Homo sapiens: one gene and its partners. The protein of the gene in region 1 purifies or fractionates together with the protein of each later gene. This does not show direct contact. Each region holds a gene or a part of one and is shown in the gene's direction. Other genes may lie near its edges.

Region 1 (7,063 bases):
TATTTACATGTTTCTTGTACAAAAACAACATTGCTCCAGAGGTTGGGAGGTGACCCCAAGAGGAGTCTATGCATGGCGAGGACAAAGCCTACCACGGGGTTCAGAGTGGAGAGGAGGGGTGCAGGAGGGTGGAAAAGTGGCCCCCACTTTGTCATCTGGTGGGTTCCAGAGCAAAGGAAAGGTGTTCAGGATCTGAGAGCCTGGGCAGGTTTGCCTGGGTGCTGTGCCTGGTGTATGGCTTGGCGCTGAGAGATGCTTCAGGCAGGGCATCTCCATGAACTGATCACGGACGTCACCTGAGTTTATCATATGCGTCCCCTGTCCTGGGCTCCAGAAGGGGCCGCGGGCTACCTGGAGGGGAAGAACAGGGGCTGCCATAGGAGAGACTTTGCATCCGGTGGAGTAGGGGCCTGTGGAGGCAGCACCTGACCAGATGGGAGAGGCCACTTCCAGGTGGCCCTGAAGGATGGTTGGCAATTGGCCACCGTAAGAGGGGACGGGGGAAGGGTGTTCCAGGCAGCTGAAACAGCAAGTGCTAAGGCCTGAGGGATGACAGAGCCAGCCATGTTCTGGGAAATGGAAATAGATCAGAGTAACCAGAGGAAAGAGGGAGGTATGGGGGTGGGGAGGCAGAGAGGGACAAAGACAGAGAAGAGCCAGGAGGAGGCCCTGCCTTGTGGGCCACACTAAGATGCCTGAGCTCCCCCGTGAGGGGTGAGGAGGGGTTCTGCCGTGGAGGCCGGAGTGGAGGCCAGGTGTCCAGCAGCGGAGGCCAGTGCCAGCAGTCGAGGCCGGAGTGGGCCTAGTGTGGGGTCAGGACCTAGCAAAGGAGCTCAGCCAGAGGTCTGGACAGGGTGGAGGAAGCCAGGCCAGGAGGGCCGGGGGGTGTGGGGAGGTGATAGGCCAGGCCAGGGAGCCCAAGGGCTGCCCTTGAGGCACAGGAATCTGAAAGCCAGTGGAGGACAGATCCAGCTGTCCCCCCGACCGCCCTGCCAGAGGTAGGCCCCACTGGAGGCTCAGGCAGGACCAACGGGCACCCGTCACCCCACCTGGTCACAGCAATGGGGAGGAGTGGAGGCCTGGGGCAGAGTGGTGGGGTACTGGGCCTTTGGGGTCTCTCAGTTCGGCTGTGGGCCCCGAGCTTTCCAAGATGAACCTGAGTCAGCACCGTGGCGGCTGTGGCGGCCACGGCGGCTCCGGCCTTCCTCCACCCCCTCCCTGCCACCCCGGCCACTTGGGAGAGTCATTTCATTTCTCAAATTAAAAATCCATTTTGTGCTGTGAATAATAGATGGGATGAGCCCCGAGAGGCCGGGTGGAGGACAGGAAGCTGGCTGGAGGCGTGTTTTTAGGGCTCAGAAGATACCACAGATCTGCAGGGGAGGAGTAGGGCCTGGTTGGACAGGGTGGAGGCTGGCGGGGCTCGTCCTGGAGCTGACACCCTGCTGCAGCACACCGAGGCAGGGCAAGGGGTTCATCCCCACCCACGTGCAGGCCGCAGGAGAGAGGCGGGTCCGACCACAAATGGGCTCCAGTCAGGACCAGGCCCGGCGTTAGGTGGGCAGCCCCACCTCAGAGCAGGGCACTTAGCAGCCCACATGGTGAACGTGCAACAGATGCAAGCTACTGGTGACAGCACACTGTCCTCAGGGAGGGCTCTATGTCCAGAACCCAAACCAAGTGATGCCCTGTTCGGCAGAGTTGCTGGGATCTACCCTTGGTCAAGGAGGAGACAGAGAGTCAGGTTCTGAACCCCTCATCTCTGCCCCCTTGCATCCCCTCGGGCCTTTTCTCTCCAAGGCAGCTCTGGCAGCACCCAACTGCTCCCTGAAGCTGGGCACCCAGCTGCCTCACTCAGGGCTTGGCTGGGTTTAGCTGGGCACCACTGTGGCCTGTCATTCTCTTTCTCATGAGTCATGGGGTCATCTTGGTAATTAGGGGTAGGAAGAGATCCCCCAAAAGAGTGAGCAAGCTACAGGCCAGACCACTGGTGCCTACTCCCCTACAGTGCCAGCTTCCCTTACAGAGAAGGTGCCGGAGAGTCAAGGAGGTGGGCCTCTGACTTCTCTTTATTGGCAGTCTGTGTGGGGTGGCCAGGACTGAGGGGTCAGAGGGCCCAATTCCAAGTCAACTCCTGTAGGCCCTGGTTGCTGCTCTCAGCCCGGGGCTGGGGGATGCGATGTGAAAAGAAAAGGTGAGGTGGAGCCAGGCAGGTCGCCCGGCAGGGAGTCGGGAGGCCCATGAGCAGACCAATAGCAGCTGAGTCTGGGAGAGGGTGGCTGGAAGGGGGGTCCCAGAGCTGACCCGGGAGGGAGGAGGAAGGGATGAGGGAGGGCAAAAGGAGGGAGGAGAGACTGAGGGCCTGGGGGCTGCCCCCCACCCCACCCCCGGGACTGGAGCAGAAGAGTCCCTAGGGAAGCGTGTTTGCCTCTGTGCCTTTCTGTCGGAAGAGGCTCTCTGAGACAATATCCATTTTTACATTTCTTGGAAATTTCATGGCATTCATTTCGGGGAAAATAAAAGCTGTCCTTGCTGGAGAAATGATACCAATCAGGGCCTGAAAAGGCTGGAAAATTATCCTCCTGGAGACGGGAACATTGAGGGAAAAATGCAGATTAAAAGCACAAAGAGCCACTTTGCCACCTCCCTGCCCTCCCCTCCCCCCTTCATGGAATCGCCACATTATAAGTAATTCCATTTTTCCTCTTTAGAATTAATAGGACCCAAGAAGGATGCATGGGGCAGAGGACAACCCTGGGGTGGCCAGAGATGGAGGCAGGGTATCCGGAGTGGGGGCTTAGAGATGGAGAGATGAAGAGGCAGGGAGAGGCAAGACAGGGGCAGAGGCCGGCACTCAGGGCCAGGGCTCAGGAGCTGGGCAGATGCACAGACCCTGAGGAGGAGAACAGGATGATGGGTAGGTTATCAGAGTCCCTACCTTGTTGTGATTTTTATTAGATGGTGCTCCATGGCTCTCACACATTGTTTAAGCCAATCCTACGGGCTGGAGCCGGCAGACCTGGGAGGGCTGGTGCTTTGTGGGGTCTCCTGCTAGAGACACCAGAGGCAGGGTAGGGCAGAGAAAGCAGAGACTCCAGAAACAGTATCAGTCTTCCAAGGAGCCCCAAGTTCTCTGTGTCCCATTAGGGCCAGGCTGTCTGGCCAAGGCAGGCAGGCAGGTAGAAGAGGGCTTTGCCTCCAGGCAGTGGGGAGGCCCCACATTTAAAAAGCCAGTTTACCTGGAAGAAGGCAGGCGGTGAGTAAATTCAGAGTCCCTGCACCCAGCCTGCCCTCCCATCAGTCCACATACCAGGGTCTTGAGGCTCAGGGCCTGTCTGAGGCCTAGGGCTGCTGGCCAGAGGGGGCAGGCTCCAGCCTTCCCTGGCTCCAGCAGGGAGACTTCGCTCATTCTTCTCTTGGCCTTTTCTTCCTACCTGGGCCAGGGACTCCCTGAGCCGTGGTGCCAGGGCCACCCAAGGCTGGGGAGGATGGGGAAGGGGGCGGCAAGCCCTCTTCTTGCAGGAGTCCCCGCTGAGCTCCCTTCACCAGGGGCTAGGTGAAGGGAGCGAGGCCAACCAGAAGCCCTAGTGGAGAGCCCATCCAGGGCAGGGGTTCCAAGGAGGACAAAAAAGCCGGTTAGTGAAGGTGCGCTCTGCGCCAGGGACTGTGCCGGCAGACACAGGCACTACTGACACCGCCCCCAGCCCTTCGGAGGAGTCCTCGGCTCCTCATCTCCAGCTCCAGCCCCTTTCCAGCCGGCTGGTGGGCGGCTGGGAGTGGGGACACTGGATCGGAGGGGACCCTTCACGGGAGTACTCGCTGCCCTCACTCGTCTCGGAACGCGGCTGGACCCGGAGTCCCCGACCGCAGCCCGCGCACGACCCCCGGGAGCCTGTCTCCGCGGCCGCCGACCCACGTCCGCGCTGCCGCCCCACTGCCAGGTGGCCCGAGAGATGCAGGAGGAAGGAGGGGCGCGCGGGGCGGGCGGAGGAGGGTGGAGCCGCCGGCGCGCCCCCTCCCTCGGGCCGGCAGGCGGGCGGCGCGGCGGGCTCGGCGCGGCGGCAGAGGAGGCGGCGGGCGCTGGGAGACACCGGACGCCCGCTCGGCTGCGCTGCGGCTCAGGCCCCCGCTCGGGCCCGACCCGCTCGGTCACCGCCGGCTCGGGCGCGCACCTGCCGGGTAAGTGGCGCCCGAGTCCCTGCCGCTGAGGCCACCACCGCGGCCACTTCCGTCGCCGCCGCCGCCACTGCGCGGAGCCTCCCGGCTTTGTCTGCGTCCTCTCGGCTGCGGCTCCGGCTGCGGCTGCGGCTGCGGCTCCCGGGCTCGGCTCTCGGGCTCCGCGGACTGCGCCGCACGGCGCCGGGGCTCGGGGGTCGCCAGCCAGCTCGCTCCCCGCCGGGGGTGAAACTTCGCCCAAGTTTGGGTTCTGGGGAGAACCTGTTGAAGCCAGGAGTGGCTCGGGGCGGGGACAGAGATGGTGGGAGTGGGGGGAGGGAACCCGTCTCGGGTTCTCCATCAGGGCCGTCCAGTGGGTGGGTTGTGTGTCCGCCACCCTGGGGCGTTGGCGCGCGCCCCTAGGGAAGGGGCGAGTGGGCCGTCGGGCCACCGAGCAGAAGGAGCCAGGGAGCGGGGTTGGCGTGGTCGATCCCGCGGACTTCCGCGAGGACAAAGTTTGGTTCTTTGGCCGCTTTGCGGAGCGTCTGTCTGGGTCCAGCGCGGAGAGCTGAAAGTGTCGCATAGACGCGCCCCTGACCGCACCTCCTCACTCCAGCCTCCGCTTCTTCCCCCACTCCACCCGGCCTTGGCTGGGGCAGGTCGTGGAAGAGAAAGGCGAAGGGGAAGAGGGACGACCTTTCAATGAAGGCCCACTACGTGCCAGGCCCCTTGCCTGGCGCCTCTTGCTTCCAATAAGAGCCCTCCCAACCCTGCGGCCCTCAAGTGTGTGCAGGGAGGGGACAGGGGGGAAGACTCCACTGTGCACCCGGGGGTGGTGGCCCCGCCGAACCCTCATAGTCCCTGGTTTCCGCAGTGAATGAGGCCCGCGGCTGGGGCCTCTGCACCCAGGCCTGTGTCCCTCCTCGCGGTGACCCTGAGCCCCATCCGGCTGCGGCGCCTCCTGAGCCTGCTTCCGCCCTTCCCGCAGCTGCGGCCCCAGGGCCATGCGGAGGCCCACGAGGAGGCCGGCGGCCACGCGCATCCCGTAGCCCAGGTGGCCCAGGTCTGCACCGCGGCGGCCTCGGCGCCATGGAGCCCCCGTATTCGCTGACGGCGCACTACGATGAGTTCCAAGAGGTCAAGTACGTGAGCCGCTGCGGCGCGGGGGGCGCGCGCGGGGCCTCCCTGCCCCCGGGCTTCCCGTTGGGCGCTGCGCGCAGCGCCACCGGGGCCCGGTCCGGGCTGCCGCGCTGGAACCGGCGCGAGGTGTGCCTGCTGTCGGGGCTGGTGTTCGCCGCCGGCCTCTGCGCCATTCTGGCGGCTATGCTGGCCCTCAAGTACCTGGGCCCGGTCGCGGCCGGCGGCGGCGCCTGTCCCGAGGGCTGCCCTGAGCGCAAGGCCTTCGCGCGCGCCGCTCGCTTCCTGGCCGCCAACCTGGACGCCAGCATCGACCCATGCCAGGACTTCTACTCGTTCGCCTGCGGCGGTTGGCTGCGGCGCCACGCCATCCCCGACGACAAGCTCACCTATGGCACCATCGCGGCCATCGGCGAGCAAAACGAGGAGCGCCTACGGCGCCTGCTGGCGCGGCCCGGGGGTGGGCCTGGCGGCGCGGCCCAGCGCAAGGTGCGCGCCTTCTTCCGCTCGTGCCTCGACATGCGCGAGATCGAGCGACTGGGCCCGCGACCCATGCTAGAGGTCATCGAGGACTGCGGGGGCTGGGACCTGGGCGGCGCGGAGGAGCGTCCGGGGGTCGCGGCGCGATGGGACCTCAACCGGCTGCTGTACAAGGCGCAGGGCGTGTACAGCGCCGCCGCGCTCTTCTCGCTCACGGTCAGCCTGGACGACAGGAACTCCTCGCGCTACGTCATCCGCGTGAGTGCGCCCCCTGAGCGCCCTGCCAGCGGCCGCGGATCCGGGGCGCAGTGGCCTTGCCCAGGGGTCCCTGCGCGCGGGAGGCGGGTGCGTGAGAGGAGAGGAGGGAAGAGACGAGCAGGAGAGGGGAGGGGAGGGGAGCGCACAGAGGCAGAGCGCGGGAGGAGGGCGCAAGTAATTTCCCTGGGGTAATTGCGGTGTTTAGAGGAGCCGCGGGAGCCGCAATTTCCCAGCCCTCTGGCAGGCAGTGAGGGCCAGGAGGGAGAGGCGCGCCGGCGGGCTGGGTTGACGTCTCCGCGAGGTCTGGAGCTGGCCCCAAAGCTAGGGGTCCCAACTGTCAGTGGGGGACCTACGAATGCCCCGGACAGATAAGGAAAGTGCAGACGTACAGGGGTAAGATTGGGCATCCGCAGGCTGGGACAGTCAGGGATGGGGCTTTGGCCATCTCGTCTGGGTGGAAAGAGGAGCTGGGGTCTGCGTGCTTCTGTGGCTGTACTCATGGATGTCTGGTTGCTCTCTGGGCATTGGAGTGGGAATTCCCTCTGTTTAGGGAACCTGAGGTGTGGGCCTCTGACCTGTGGCCCCTGTCTCCCTCCCCAGATTGACCAGGATGGGCTCACCCTGCCAGAGAGGACCCTGTACCTCGCTCAGGATGAGGACAGTGAGAAGGTGCTGGGGCATGGGATGGGGAGGCAGGGAAGGCCTGGGGCCCCAGGAGGGGTGGATCCAGGCTAGGCCTGTCCCTGTCCCTGGGTGAGCCCCCTCCCCTGGTGCAGATCCTGGCAGCATACAGGGTGTTCATGGAGCGAGTGCTCAGCCTCCTGGGTGCAGACGCTGTGGAACAGAAGGCCCAAGAGATCCTGCAAGTGGAGCAGCAGCTGGCCAACGTGAGCAGACCAGGACTGGAGGCTGCCCTGGGCTTGAGGGAGGGCATCATGGAGCAGGGCTGGGTCAGCTGTGATCTCTCCCCACAGATCACTGTGTCAGAGCATGACGACCTACGGCGAGATGTCAGCTCCATGTACAACAAGGT
Region 2 (7,022 bases), on another chromosome or scaffold:
ATTGCTTGAACCCGGAAGGCAGAGGTTGCAGTGAGCTGAGGTCGCACTATTGCACTCCAGCCTGGGAAACAAGAACAAGACTCCACCTCAAGAAAAAAATAATAATAATGGAGCTCCTCGAACAGTCTTGACACATAGTAAGCATGCAATATATATTTGTTGATGAATGACTGAGTTTTTAAGTAACAAAAGCAAGGTCTAATACATTATGTATAGAATGCTATCATTCGTATTAAAAAAAAGAATGTATACGTGTGTGCATGTATGCATAGAGCACAACAGGGAATATGTACCAAAAATTGGCAAGTTAGCAAAAGATTTAGGTGGGTAGTAGATGAGGACAAATAACAGGCACAAACAAAAGGGAGGGAAATAATTTTATGGTACCTTCTTAGTGTTGTAACATGCATTTTTAAACTTTCTGAATAATTAGTAATATAAAACGTTGTATTTACAGGGATGAAAGTGAACCTGCCCAAATAGAAGATTCAAGTGTTGTTAAACCTGCTGGCTGGCTTGATGATGAACCAAAATTTATCCCTGATCCTAATGCTGAAAAACCTGATGACTGGTAAGCACTCTTCATCTTCAAATGTCGATTTCAAATGTTTCTTACATGCATTTTTGTTACTAGTTTATATGACTGATCTGAGACTTGAGGTTACTGTATTTGCTTTGTTTTAATATCCTAAGGAATGAAGACACGGATGGAGAATGGGAGGCACCTCAGATTCTTAATCCAGCATGTCGGATTGGGTGTGGTGAGTGGAAACCTCCCATGATAGATAACCCAAAATACAAAGGAGTATGGAGACCTCCACTGGTCGATAATCCTAACTATCAGGTAACAACCGCTTGTTCCAATTATTTAGTGAAGTTAAAAATGTTGTGATCTTTTCTATTTAAATATCTAATTACCTATGTCAACTTTTGGAAGTTTCATTTTTAATTTTAAGATGTCAAAGAAAATAGACCTCAACTAATTTATATTTTAAAAGTAGAGCATCAATTATTTAATTTTCTGGGGAAATAAATCACTTCATACTATATTCTTCCCTAATTATCAGTTGATGCTCACTTTGAAATAAAGTTCTATTTTAGAAGTAAATATAAGAAGTGAATTTTGATCAAATAGACTCATATTGTACATTTTAGTAATTAATGCCTGTGCTTAATTAATGTACTTATTATTTAGTATTATTAAAATTCTGATTTTTGGCCAGGTACGGTGGCTCATGCCTGTAATCCCAGCACTTTGGGAGTCCAAGGCGGGCGGATCACGAGGTCAGGAGATGGAGACCACCCTGGTCAACATGGTGAAACCCTGTCTCCACTAAAAATACAAAAAATTAGCCAGATGTGGTGGCGCACGCCTGTAGTCCCAGCTACTCAGGAGGCTGAGGCAGGGGAATCTCTTGGACCCTGGAGGTGGAGATCGCAGTGAGCTGAGATCGTGCCACTGCACTCCCGCCTGGCGACACAGCAAGACTCAAAACAAAAAAACAAAAAAACAAAAAACCTGGCCTGGCGTGATCTTGGCTCACTGCAGCCTCTGCCTCCTGGGCTCAGGCGATTCTCCTGATTCACCCTCCTACGTAGCTGAGATTACAGGCACACCCCAGCACGCCCGGCTAACTTTTGTATTTTTAGCGGAGACGGGGTTTCACATGTTGGTCAGGCTGGTCTCGAACTCCTGACCGTGATCCGCCCACCTTGGCCTCCCAAAGTGCTCAGGTTACAGAAGTAAGCCACCGAACCCAGCCCTGATTTTTTTCTGATATCAATCGACATCTTTTGAGTGTACCTAGCTTTTTATATTAAAAGTTTCTATGTTATCCACTTAACCCTCTAGTTTTATCTTTGTAATTATTTATGGATACGTTCTAACATTATATATATGCAGTTTCATATTCTAATTACTCACTGTAGTTTTTATTAAAAGCATTTAACACAAAATGTTTCTTTTGGTAAATTTTTTTGTTTGATGTCTGTCTCTTTTATTTGACTTTAAACTCCATAATACAGGAACCATGTATGTCTCCATCATCTGGCATAGTGCCTGGCCCAGAATACATACATGTGATGGTGGAGTGAGTCAGTGAGCAATGATATTGTTGAATGTATTTGATTTAATGGACAGTTTAATCATTTAAGATCTAATGGAAGTTTTAGGTTGAGTAGTTGTGCCGAGATTCAACCATACCTGATTAATGATATCTGTCATGGGTATATGTTAAATGGAGTAACTCCATTTTTGCTATACAATGATCTTTCTGATTTGGACAACTTGAATAACATTTTGCAATGAATAACTTTACTAAATCTAAAAATTTGTCCAAAGTAGACAAATTGTGAAATTTATTCACGTTTCTGTTTATGTTGGATTTTCCCTTTTCCTTTTCTTGCAGAATTTAAAGTTAGTATCACTCGTAGGGAACATTGTGTACACAGCAAAAGAAACAAGATTTTATATCCAGTATATTACTAATGAATTAATATCAGTTAAAATTCTCTTTTTTCCAGTTAGCATTGCGAATTTCATTCAACAGCAGCTACTTATTAAGCAGCATTTATAATGAAGTTATTTTATTTGAAAATGTCTTCAATTACTTTTCTTCCAGGGAATCTGGAGTCCTCGAAAAATTCCTAATCCAGATTATTTCGAAGATGATCATCCATTTCTTCTGACTTCTTTCAGTGCTCTTGGTTTAGAGCTTTGGTCTATGACCTCTGATATCTACTTTGATAATTTTATTATCTGTTCGGAAAAGGAAGTAGCAGATCACTGGGCTGCAGATGGTTGGAGATGGAAAATAATGATAGCAAATGCTAATAAGGTATGGTGTTGACCAATAGCAGTAGTGATATAACTATGAATAATAATACTTGGTCTTGGTTGTAGGTTATTCAGATGGCTCTTTTAAATGCAAATAAATGTGCAGTAACTACTAAATGCCAAGGAAATGTGTTTGAATAAGTTTATGTAGACAGAATATTTTGCTTTTTATGTTACTTCATTATGAGCTATATATGCATATGTAAGTCCTCATTTTATTCATTAAATTATAACATCACTAATGGGATTTAATGCTTATTTACTGTTCATAGAAGAAGACTACTTAATATCTTTGTCATCTTGCCAGTTCAAGACCTAAGTGACAATGATAATCTAAATATTACTGTTTATTTAACTATTTTTTACTTAGAGGAATGTACAAAGAATTTATAGTTTAACATTATTAAATTCTGTTCCAGTTTTTTCCCGAAACCTTAACACTGTTTAGAAAAGGTTGGGCTAAATATTTCAACACAATGCATCTTAGAAAATGTATCATTAAATTCAGTTGCTATAAAGAAAAATTCTTACCTTACATTTGGTTCCTTGGGTCACTAGCGAAAAACCATCAAAAGAGTAGGTGAAGAGGGATTCTTGTTTTGAACCTCTTGTAACTAAAACATTTGATTTTTTAAATTTTATTTTAATAAGAGAAATAATATCCTTACTGAGGGTCTTATGTGTGAAATGTGTTTATATAAAAAAGAAAACAATTCTGAGGTATGATTTTTAGTAAGTTCTTTAAAAGTACAGAATGAATGATCAGAGTACAGAATGAATGATCACTTCAAATAAACCAGGTAATACATCCATAAAAGGTAGTTCTATTCTGAAATTTACCAAAAAGGAAAATTACCATTTTTCTTGCCAGTATGTTAGAAGTTTCCACTTTTGTCATAACATACCTTCTGCTATCAAGTCTCACTCAGTGATGCATGCTAATAATTAAATTAGACTTTACAAAGTATAAGGTGGGAAAATGAAACTTCTTTTACTTACGAGTTCATCACTCCTTAATGTAAAATGCCTGAGTAAATAAGTTTTTTTGTATCTTGTGTTACCCAGTAAAGGTTTGTAAAATTTGAATTGCATTTTTATGCTTATCTCGTCTATAGCCTGGTGTATTAAAACAGTTAATGGCAGCTGCTGAAGGGCACCCATGGCTTTGGTTGATTTATCTTGTGACAGCAGGAGTGCCAATAGCATTAATTACTTCATTTTGTTGGCCAAGAAAAGTAAAGGTAAAGAAAATGGATTTCCTTCAACTTTTTTCACCCAAATTTCTTGTTGTTTAAGAGTTCTATAAATTAAGCGATTCTTAAAAGTAATAAACTAAATGTCTCATAAGTTTTACTGATAGTTCATTATGTATGTTATCAATTATTGCAAAAAAACTTTCAAAATAGCACTCTGCCTTTAGTAAAAATAACTTATGTTAACTACCACAGAAAAAACATAAAGATACAGAGTATAAAAAAACCGACATATGTATACCACAAACAAAAGGAGTACTAGAGCAAGAAGAAAAGGAAGAGAAAGCAGCCCTGGAAAAACCAATGGACCTGGAAGAGGAAAAAAAGCAAAATGATGGTGAAATGCTTGAAAAAGGTAAGATGATGAGAGTGATTTATAATGGAGACTCTGGGTAAAGCTCATAAAACTGTATATGGCCTTGAAATAACTAGTTATTATACTTGTTTATTATCAAGTTTATACATCTGAATCTCCCAAGAATATGTGACTGTGGCAAGAAGGAATAATAGTCCTCTGAGCAGCCACCCTGTTTATAGTTTTTGCATTCTAGGAAGAAGGAGATTTAAATAGTGTTCAGTTGCTTGAGAGCCTAGCAGTTAATGAATCCCATAGGCCATAGCTTTTTGCAAGGATGTTTCTTGGCTCTGGGAGTGTAGAAGATGAGATGGAGGGTGATAGAGGGTGTATATCATGGCCTCTGTAGAAAAGGAATAGATATAAAACAGATGATTGCAGCAACAAAATCAACACCAAGTCTTCCAACAGCTATTGTTAGTCAGATGCTTATCATATAGAAGAAATAATTTAATTAATTTTCTGAAAGGATTGCTGAACCTATATCCCCTTCTCACCCTATGTTAAACTCTTGAAGATGTTAGAACTGAAGTCACCCTTTGGTGGCTGTCCGCTGAGACCTCCTTACATAAGGTAGAAATAAAACTATTGATTTGCCCAGTGTCCCAAGCCAAATGTCTTGAAGCACAGTGTTTAACTCACTTAATGAAACAGTTGACTTAAAAACACATATGTGTCTATCTATTTTTTAAGAGACAGTATATATATATATACACACATATACATACACATGTTCATGTGTGTATTAGGATAGGTATCTAAAACAACAAATGTTTCAGGTTGTAAGTTTCCAGCCTTGTTTTTGTAACTTCTTAGTGCTTAGTATATTGATGTCTGGATCAGCCTTATTTAGAGGGAATTTAAGTATCGGAGGGGCCTGCTTGTATAAAGGTACTTTCACCACTTTCATCTATACACGTAGTCCCACATTGGAACTACGTAGAAGAAGTAGAGTTGATTTTTCAACTTCCCTTTCCCCAAAGCCCATTCTTGGTAGGGTAGGAGTTTTTACTTTATATAGCTCCTAGGACGTGCTTAATATCTTTTGGTTAATAATGATGACAAAAGTTGGAGGTTCTGCTAAATGGAATCCTAAGGAGGGTCAATAACTGAAAAAATGCATGATGTCCACAGAGAACAAACATAAGTAAATAACATATTGAAGATTAAAAGATCACCAAAAATTAAAGGAAGTATTTTCCAAGACAGGAACACAGGAAAGATTATTATTTTTTGGTTTTCATATTACATACAGACTGAATGCTTAAGAATTTTTTAAACTTGTCCCCAAACTCAAATATGATTCATTTATAAAATATGATAATATAATGAGTATTTATAATTTTTAAAATTTTGAATGGAAGAAGTTGCTTCTAAATCTTGGAATAAATCTTGGAATTTAAATAAATCCCATTTATTGTATTTAATACTTTTCAGTAGCAAAATTCTAATTTATTGAGTCTTTGCTTTTAACAAAATCTGTATTCTAGAAGAGGAAAGTGAACCTGAGGAAAAGAGTGAAGAAGAAATTGAAATCATAGAAGGGCAAGAAGAAAGTAATCAATCAAATAAGTCTGGGTCAGAGGATGAGGTAACAGAAAATAAGCTGGTTTCTATGTATAGTTGTTATCCATAAAAAGTTTTTTCAATAAAAGCACCAATATGATTTATGAAAGAATTTTTGCCATATTTCTCTCAGCTTTTATAAGAGCCTCTATATTGTTTTTAAAACATATCCATAAGGAAGGAAAGAAAAATACTGTAATTTATATTGTCTCAATGCCTAGTAAAACAGTATAGAGCAAGCCTGTGGCGTACAAAATATAAAGATAGAATACATGTATCCAAAATTATGACTTTCTCATTGAAATTCTATTGAAAAGCATAATAAACACATTGTTTGAATATTTAAAAGATAATTATCATTATTATAATTTTTATAGCTGTTGTAAAACATCTTTATTGTCTCAACATTTTACTCTCACGTTTTAAAATATTTCATTCATTGGGTAGTTGAGTACTATCTGCCTGATAGGGTATTTTTCTCAAATCTTTAGTGAACTTTTCTCCCCCCTTATTAGTCTACCCCTTTTTGTGTCCTGATATAAAATGGAACTTTGCACAATGCTTTTTTTTTGTAAGTTATTATGGAATGAGAAATCCCGAGTATAATTAGAGCCAGAGCTGTCTTTTTTCTTTTTTGTTTTTAATCCAGCATAAACCAAAAACCAGTTTTCTCTGGCCCTTAAAGAGCTGGGTAGCCTTACCCCACAGAGTCACCATCCTAACATATTACATTCCAACTATGTAGGTAGGATAAAAGTACAGTTCTGCCTGCTCTTGCATGTGATGAAATGAATTTTGTATTTTATCTATTTAAAGAAATCCTCCAAATAAATTTGCAATTATTGTTAAGTCTTTCCTAATGTTTAATCAGTACACATACTGTTTGCTGGTCTTCCTGCCCTCTGAGTTTTTATAGGGACTTTGGGACCATTATTTAGTATGAATATCCATATTTAGGGAGAGCTAGGTGAAGAGAATTTCTTCCAGAGCCAAGTTTTAAATAATCATTGTT
Region 3 (7,271 bases), on another chromosome or scaffold:
AATCCACGGTCCTTTGGTTAGGAGAAAAAGTACAGAGCTTGCAGTTGCAGCATCAGTTGCATTGTCATTTTAACCACACTCATATTTGTGTAAACAACTAAGAATATAACCAAAGTGACTATCCATGGGACCTTGTGAAAGCCCATTTACAGGGAGCGTTCACATCCAACATCACCTTTGATATTGGTGAATTACAAAACAAAATTCTTGTTTTAAATAAGCAAACTCAAAAATTTCAACCTGCTTTAGAAGACTGGACCAAATTCCAGCAACGCCTGGCAAGCCTCAACCCTTGGACCTATCTAAAGCACCACATTAACAATTTATATGTAGTTCTTGGAATAATGTTGTTTTGTCTCTGTCTTCTGCTCATAGTCTGTAAAATCGGACGGACTGCCAATCAGAGAATGAGAGATGCCCAGCCTGGCCTTACATTCTTTCAATTAATACATAAACACAAAGGGAGAGATGTTGGGAGCCAAAAAGGCCAAAGGGATCATGATCAACTCAGCATTCCACTGGAGGCTATATGATCAAATAGCAAACTGTTTATCACTATCACGAATGCAGGATGTGAGCAAACTCACACTGCGCCTGCCACCAAAAGGTTGGCTGAGGGCCTCACTCCCTGGCACGGGGCTCCTTGAAGTTATCTACTGAGAAATCTAGTGTCTATTGTTCAAACGATGCAGTCTGGCAAGCCTGCTGTGAACCAACCAGCCGACTGACAATTACCCCACAATCACCCCCCATTTATCCCTATCTGTTTTGCCTAATAAATATGGAGGGCTGTGTAAAGCTCAGGGCCCTTGTCCACTAGAGGCAAGGTGCCCCCTGACCCCTTCTTCCAAACATACTCTTGTCTCTTGTCTTTTATTCTCACGTTCACCACCCTTTGTTGTTACCCTAAGTCCATGCAGGTTGCAAGTGGCACCCCTGATCAACGACAGAATCGGGTGCTCTACAGTCAGGGAGGGCCATGTTAAACCCTTTTGTAAGCCTTGGGTTTTGAGTGAGATGGGGAGCCACTTAGGTGTTGTGAGCAAATAAATGACAGAATTAGACCTTGTAACAACAAGAAAACCCTATGTGGCAGCTGAATTAAGTGGACAGAAGTGAGGCAAAGTGGAGGCAGGAGACCAGTTAGGCTATTCAAATAATGGAGGTGAGAGATAACAGCAGTTTGGCCCAGGGTGGGGACCATGGAGGCGGTAAAATTTAATGGTTAAATTCTCATAGATTTTGAAAGCACAGCTGACAAGGCTTGGTGATAGACATGCTATAGCACAAGAAAGGAGAAGTCAAGGATGACCCCAGAATTGTGGCCCCAGGAACTGCAATAGAATTACCAGAGAAGGTCATGGATGGAGTTGGGGGTGGGAGAAGAGTTGGGAGCTCAGCATTGAAGTGGTGCTTGTCAGAAATCAGAGCAGAAATGATGAGGAGCCTAAGGGTCAAGGAGAGGTGTGGACCAATGATAAAAATGTGGGCATCACTAGCATGGGCTCAACCACCAAGAGTTGAGCACTGTGTGGGCAGGGCCTCGTGCCTGTAAGAAAGATTCAATACACGGTACAGATTTTTCCTCTCCAGCTCTTCCTTCCTTGTTTTTTTTTTTTTTTTTTTTTGGTTTGTTTGTTTGGTTTTTTTGAGTCGGAGTCTCACTCTGTCGCCCAGGATGGAGTGCAGTGGTGCGATCTCCGCTCACTGCAAGCTCCGCCTCCCGGGTTCACGCCATTCTCCTGCTTCAGCCTCCCAAGTAGCTGGGACTACAGGCGCCCGCCACCATGCCCGGCTAATTTTTTATATTGTTATTAGAGAGACGGGGTGTGAAACCGTGTTAGCCAGGATGGTCATGATCTCCTGACCTTGTGATCCGCCCGCCTCGGCCTCCCAATGTGCTGGGATTACAGGCATGAGCCACCGCGCCTGGCTGTTTTTTTTTTGTTGTTGTTGTTTTTTTAATTGAAGTGAGCGATAGAGTCAAAACCTCTTTTTTTTTTTTTACGTTTTAGTTATTTCCTAGATTTCCAATCTCTCCAGGATGTGTTACTACATCACTATAAAGAATTTATAATTTACATTCCATAGTATGTTTGTTTGTTTATTTTGAGATGGAGTCCTGCTCTGTCACCCAGGCTAGAGTGCAGTGGTGCAATCTCGGCTCACTGCAACCTCCGAATCCCAGCATCCCGGGTTCAAGCAATTCTCCTGCCTCAGCCTCCCAAGTAGATGGGATTACAGGCGTGCGCCACCACACCCAGCTAATTTTTTTGTTTGTTTGTTTTTGAGAGGAGTCTCCCTCTGTCGCCAGGCTGGAGTGCAGTGGCACAATTTCGGCTCACCACAACCTCCGACTCCCTGGTTCAAGCGATTCTCCTGCCTCAGCTTCCCAAGTAGCTGGGAATACAGGCACGCGCCACCATGCCCAGCTAATTTTTTTTTTTTTTTTTGAGACAGAAGTTTGCTTTTGTCCCCAAGACTGGGGTGCAATGGTGTGATCTCAGCTCACTGCAACCTCCGCCTCCCAAGTTCAAGCGATTCTCCTGCCTCAGCCTCCCAATTAGCTGGGATTATAGGGTTGTGCCACCATACCTGGCTAATTTTTGTGTTTTTAGTAGAGACGGGGTTTCACTACATTGGCCAGGATAGCCTCAATCTCCTGACCTCGTGATCCGCCCGCCTCGGCCTCCCAAAGTGCTGGGCTCACAGGCGTGAGACACCTCGCCCAGCCTTTTTTTTTTTTTTTTTTTTAAACAGAGTCTTGCTCTGTCACCCAGGCTTGTGCCACCACACCCGGCTAATTTTTGTATTTTTAGTAGAGACGGAGTTTCACCATGCTGGCCAGGCTGATCTGGCCTCCATCTCCTGTGCTTAAATGATCCACCCACCTCCGCCTCCCAAAGTGCTGAGATTACAGGCATGAGCCACTGAGCTCGGCCCATAATGTTTTTAAAAAGTATATCTGGAGATATTGACACAATTATGAATGCAGGCTGTAACACTTAGTAATATGGTCAATAAATTATTTTGCAATTTCAAAGTATCATTACAAAACTAATTTAAAAAGCAGCCGGGCGCGGTGGCTCATGCCTGTAATCCCAGCACTTTGGGAGGCCGAGGCGGGCGGATCACGGGATCGAGAGATCGAGACCATCCTGGCTACACAGTGAAACCCTGTCTCTACTAAAAATACAAAAAAATTAGCCGGGCATGGTAGCCGGCGCCTGTAGTCCCAGCTACTTGGGAGGCTGAGGCAGGAGACTGGCGTGAACCTGGGAGGCGGAGTTTGCAGTGAGCCGAGATCGCGCCACTGCACTCCAGCCTGGGCGAGAGCGAGACTCCGTCTCAAAAAAAAAAAAAAAAAAAAAGAAAAAACTAATATAAAAAGCTGTTGAATTTCTAAACGCATTTCCAATTGACCTTTATCAATTGCCAATAGTTTTCAAAGTGACAAATGCTGAAATTTCTAACGTTACTTTGGAATAAGCAAATATCTCTCTTTGTTATAGATCATCTGTAAAACTAATGCCATATTGAAGAAAGCCAAAGTTATAAAACTAAATTTGTGAAACAGCCCTTTATTCTTTCCTTTTCTCTTTCTAGGATGGGTTGAATTAGTACTAAATTTGGGTTTCATAAGGGCGAATTTATCTTTGAAATGGATTTTCCTCCCATCAGGTAGTCTTAATTGCTTTATAAAAATCTAAAATCTAACACAGGTTTTTAAAAAGTAAATTTTTCAAGCAGTTCATTTCCTGATGTTCGGCCCAAAAGTAAACACTGAGTATATACATTTACTTCAAATTAAAAACTGACGACCGGAAAGCATACTTTTAAAGGTAATGTCCTTGTGGAAAAAGAATTAAGAATCACGAGAACGGAACTGCTATTTGCTACCTCTGGTTTTCCGTTCACAGAAGCACGAGGAGCCCAGCGCTGCGGCTCTGCCTCGCTGGGCCACCCCTTTCGGGCACGACCGGGAGCGGGTGCTCCTCACACCGAGCGCCCGGGCGAGCACAGCTGCAGCCTGCGGATGGAGCCCAGAGCCCTGCCCTGCAGATGACGCGCCGCTGCAGCTTCGCCCACCCTCCCACAAAATGGCTGCGGGTGGCGCCAGGGATGCTGGGCGCGCGCTCCTTGGAACTAGAGAGGAGGTGGCCGGGGCGGGGCCGGGGGAGGGGGGTAGGGCAGAGCCGGCGGGAGCCCGGCGCTGATTGGCCGGCCTGGCTGGCGGGCCCCCGCCGCTGGTTCGTAGCCGGCGCAGCGGCCTGGGCTGGGATGTGAGGAGCGGCGGGTTCCGGGCTCCGGGCTCTGGGTGGCGGCGGCTGTGAGCGGCGGCACTGCGGCGCAGGCCAGCGGGCGCCGTCGGCGGCTGGCCCTGTCGGCCGCGGGATGAGGAAGCGGACCGAGCCCGTCGCCTTGGAGCATGAGCGCTGCGCCGCCGCGGGCTCGTCCTCCTCCGGCTCGGCCGCCGCGGCGCTGGACGCCGACTGCCGCCTGAAGCAGAACCTACGCCTGACGGGCCCGGCGGCGGCTGAGCCGCGCTGCGCAGCCGACGCGGGAATGAAGCGGGCGCTGGGCAGGTGAGGCTTCGCGCGGAGCGGGGGGGGGGGGGGGGCCGGTCCCTCACTTTGCGCAGGTGCGTCCCGCAGGGGGCCGCGGTACCTCCCAGCCCCTCCCAGAGTGGCCGTCCGCCCGATCCGCGGCCGCCCCCGTCCGCGCCTGTGTCCCGCATTTGGCCCGCGGCAGCCCCACCCCCGCTCCCTTCCCCAGGCACCGCGGCGGGAGCGCCCTGCCCTGCCGCTGACCCCCTGTGTCCTGCTCCGGCCCTCTCGCCAGGCACTCCTGGCCTAGCCTTGCACCCCGACCCTTTCCCGGGGAAGCCGGGGGGACCCTTACGCTGGGGGCTTGGCGCCGCCCGAAGTCATGACCCCGCGTGGGAGAGCAGGGTAGGGGGTGGGGAGTCCTTGGAAGATCCCTGGACGCCAGGCACAGCAGAGGCGGGAGGCAGAGGGGCCGGCGCCAGACCCTGAGAGCGCTGGGGCCCACTCGGACCTCCTCCTCCTGCTCTGCATCAGGCCCCACACCGAGCGCCCGGGCGGGCGCCCCTCGGGCTGGGCTGCGTGCGCGGAGCCTTACTGGCGCCTTGGGCCCTCGGCGGCTCTCCCCGGTAACTAGGGTCGGGGGCGTGCGTCGCTCAGAACTCGGGGACCTTTGGGGAAGGGCTCAGTGGGCGGCGGGGTGCTAGGGGAAGGAGGGACTCGGAGCATCGCAGCCGTCGGAGGGAAACCTGCCCTTCGCTCTGCTGGTGATGGTTCGTGGTACTTGAAATCTGTCCGCACAAGTTCGCCTCCTTGGGAATCATCTCGCAGTCCTGAGTCGTTTGGTTATTGGCGTTCAATAACCTTTGGGTTATTGGGTAGAAGATGAATGCGTTTATATAAAGCCACTTTCAAAACTGAGATGGGAACGTGTTTCATAGGGACAGATTTCTCCTCCCATCTGCTGGTTTCCTAATTATCTGGCTGTTGTAGAACGTAGCATTCCTGACAGCTTTGAAGCCTTGCTACTTCGTGGTGGTTTGAAGAAGTTACTATATGATGATCTCAGGCGTTGTAGCAGAGGCACTTCTTTTTTGACCATCTGGAATGCCCTTAGTTGACGCTGGCCACTTGAGTGTAAAATATGCGTATCGCTCCTAAGGAAAAGTAGAATTTCAACTTCATTGCTTAAAAAAATCATGAAATTAAACTATAGACACTTCTAAGTCGATGGTTTGACAGAAGGGCGGAGACTGATAGTTTTGTGTCTTTATGTGTAAAATTATGTAGCATCTGATCAATATCTTTTGTGAAACTAATCTGTTCTCTTTGCTATGGAAAGATTTATCTGCATTAAAAACTCATGATTTAACTTTAATACAATTTTATTAACAGACATGGCATAACGCTTAGATAAATTGGAAAATTCTTCCTTCGAAAAAATCAAATTGCCGGGCGCGGTGGCTCACGCCTGTAATGCCAGCACTCTGGGAGACCGAGGCGGGCAGATTATCAGAGGTCAGGAGTTCGAGACCAGCTTGACCAACATGGAGAAACCCCGTCTGTACTAAAAATACAAAATTAGCCGGGCGTGGTGGCGCATATGCCTGTAATCCCAGCTACTCGGGAGGCTGAGGCGGGAGAATCGCTTGAATCTGGGAGGCGGAGGTTGCGGTGAGCCAAGATCTCGCCGAACCGAGATCGCACCAGTGCACTCCAGCCTGGACAACAAGAACGGAACTCCGTCTCAAAAAAAAAAAAAAAAAAGAAAAAATCAAATTGTTTTACACAACGTTTGGGGAAACAGCGGCGACCTGGCACCTTCTTGAAGAATGTACTGTATTAAAATTACCCGATTAATTTTTATTTTCGTGTCAGGACAAAGAGAGACATTCCAGTGGTGTCCATATCCTTTGGATAAGCAAAAGGCTGTTAGGGGTAAAAAGCAAAACAAAGGGAAAGAAGACCAAATTTGTTAGGTTGTCTTCCTTCCCAGCTGGCTGTCTCAGACATCCTTGAGCTTTCTTCTCTTCCTCGCTCAGGCTCTGCGCCACCATCACCTCCTCCTCACTGAGGCCTTCTTAGACCAGCCCACTCCTGTCGACCTTGTTATCACTCGAGATTGTAATTTTTGCTCGTGTGCCTCCCCCGCAACCAGAATGGAAGCGCCATGAGAACAGGAGCTTTGTTTTCTCCACTTAAGTATCTCCAGTACCTGGCACGTAGTAGGTAGCAGAAAATACTTGTTGAATGAACAAATATCCATAGAACAGATATCCATTGCGCCACAGAGCCGGCTCGTTTGTGTCTTTTATGATCCTTCTTTGGATCCTTCCGCACATTTTTTAAACTCTTTATTGTCGACATACGTGGAAGTAGAGAAGACAATCTAATGAGCCTTCTTCATGTGTCCATCACTTAAAAGTTTTCAGTGTTTAGCCAATTTTGAATCATCCATCCCTCTTCTCTTTTTTTTTGTAGGATGAAGGATTGGATTTTTTTTTTTTTTTTTTTTTGAGAAGGAGTCTCGCTTTGTCGCCCAGGCTGGAGTGCAGTGGCAATCTCGGCTCACTGCAACCTCCACCTCCCAGGTTCAAGCAATTCTCCTGCCCCAGCCTCCTGAGTAGCTGGGATTACAGGCGCCCGTCACCGTGCCTGGCTAACTTTTGTAGTTTTAGTAGAGACGGGGTTTCACCATGTTGGCCAGGCTGGTCTCGAACTCGTGAC

Evidence for each region. Proteins that work in one complex are often made in the same cells at the same time.
Region 2: the proteins of ECEL1 (region 1) and CLGN purify together in Homo sapiens (co-immunoprecipitation; 2 studies listed by BioGRID and IntAct, with this or other methods). This does not show direct contact.
Region 3: the proteins of ECEL1 (region 1) and ABHD12 purify together in Homo sapiens (co-immunoprecipitation; 2 studies listed by BioGRID and IntAct, with this or other methods). This does not show direct contact.

Annotation. Positions count from the first base shown.
Region 1 is NC_000002.12:232,484,835-232,491,897, reverse strand, and holds the start of ECEL1 (endothelin-converting enzyme-like 1), read left to right. Parts: upstream 1-4,063; 5' UTR 4,064-4,179; intron 4,180-5,143; 5' UTR 5,144-5,244; coding exon 5,245-6,030; intron 6,031-6,630; coding exon 6,631-6,699; intron 6,700-6,806; coding exon 6,807-6,917; intron 6,918-7,004; coding exon 7,005-7,063. UniProt on the Homo sapiens protein: May contribute to the degradation of peptide hormones and be involved in the inactivation of neuronal peptides.
Region 2 is NC_000004.12:140,389,641-140,396,662, reverse strand, and holds part of CLGN (calmegin precursor), read left to right. Parts: intron 1-457; coding exon 458-571; intron 572-693; coding exon 694-844; intron 845-2,621; coding exon 2,622-2,837; intron 2,838-3,951; coding exon 3,952-4,077; intron 4,078-4,284; coding exon 4,285-4,444; intron 4,445-5,934; coding exon 5,935-6,035; intron 6,036-7,022. UniProt on the Homo sapiens protein: Functions during spermatogenesis as a chaperone for a range of client proteins that are important for sperm adhesion onto the egg zona pellucida and for subsequent penetration of the zona pellucida.
Region 3 is NC_000020.11:25,387,828-25,395,098, reverse strand, and holds the start of ABHD12 (lysophosphatidylserine lipase ABHD12), read left to right. Parts: upstream 1-4,263; 5' UTR 4,264-4,395; coding exon 4,396-4,586; intron 4,587-7,271.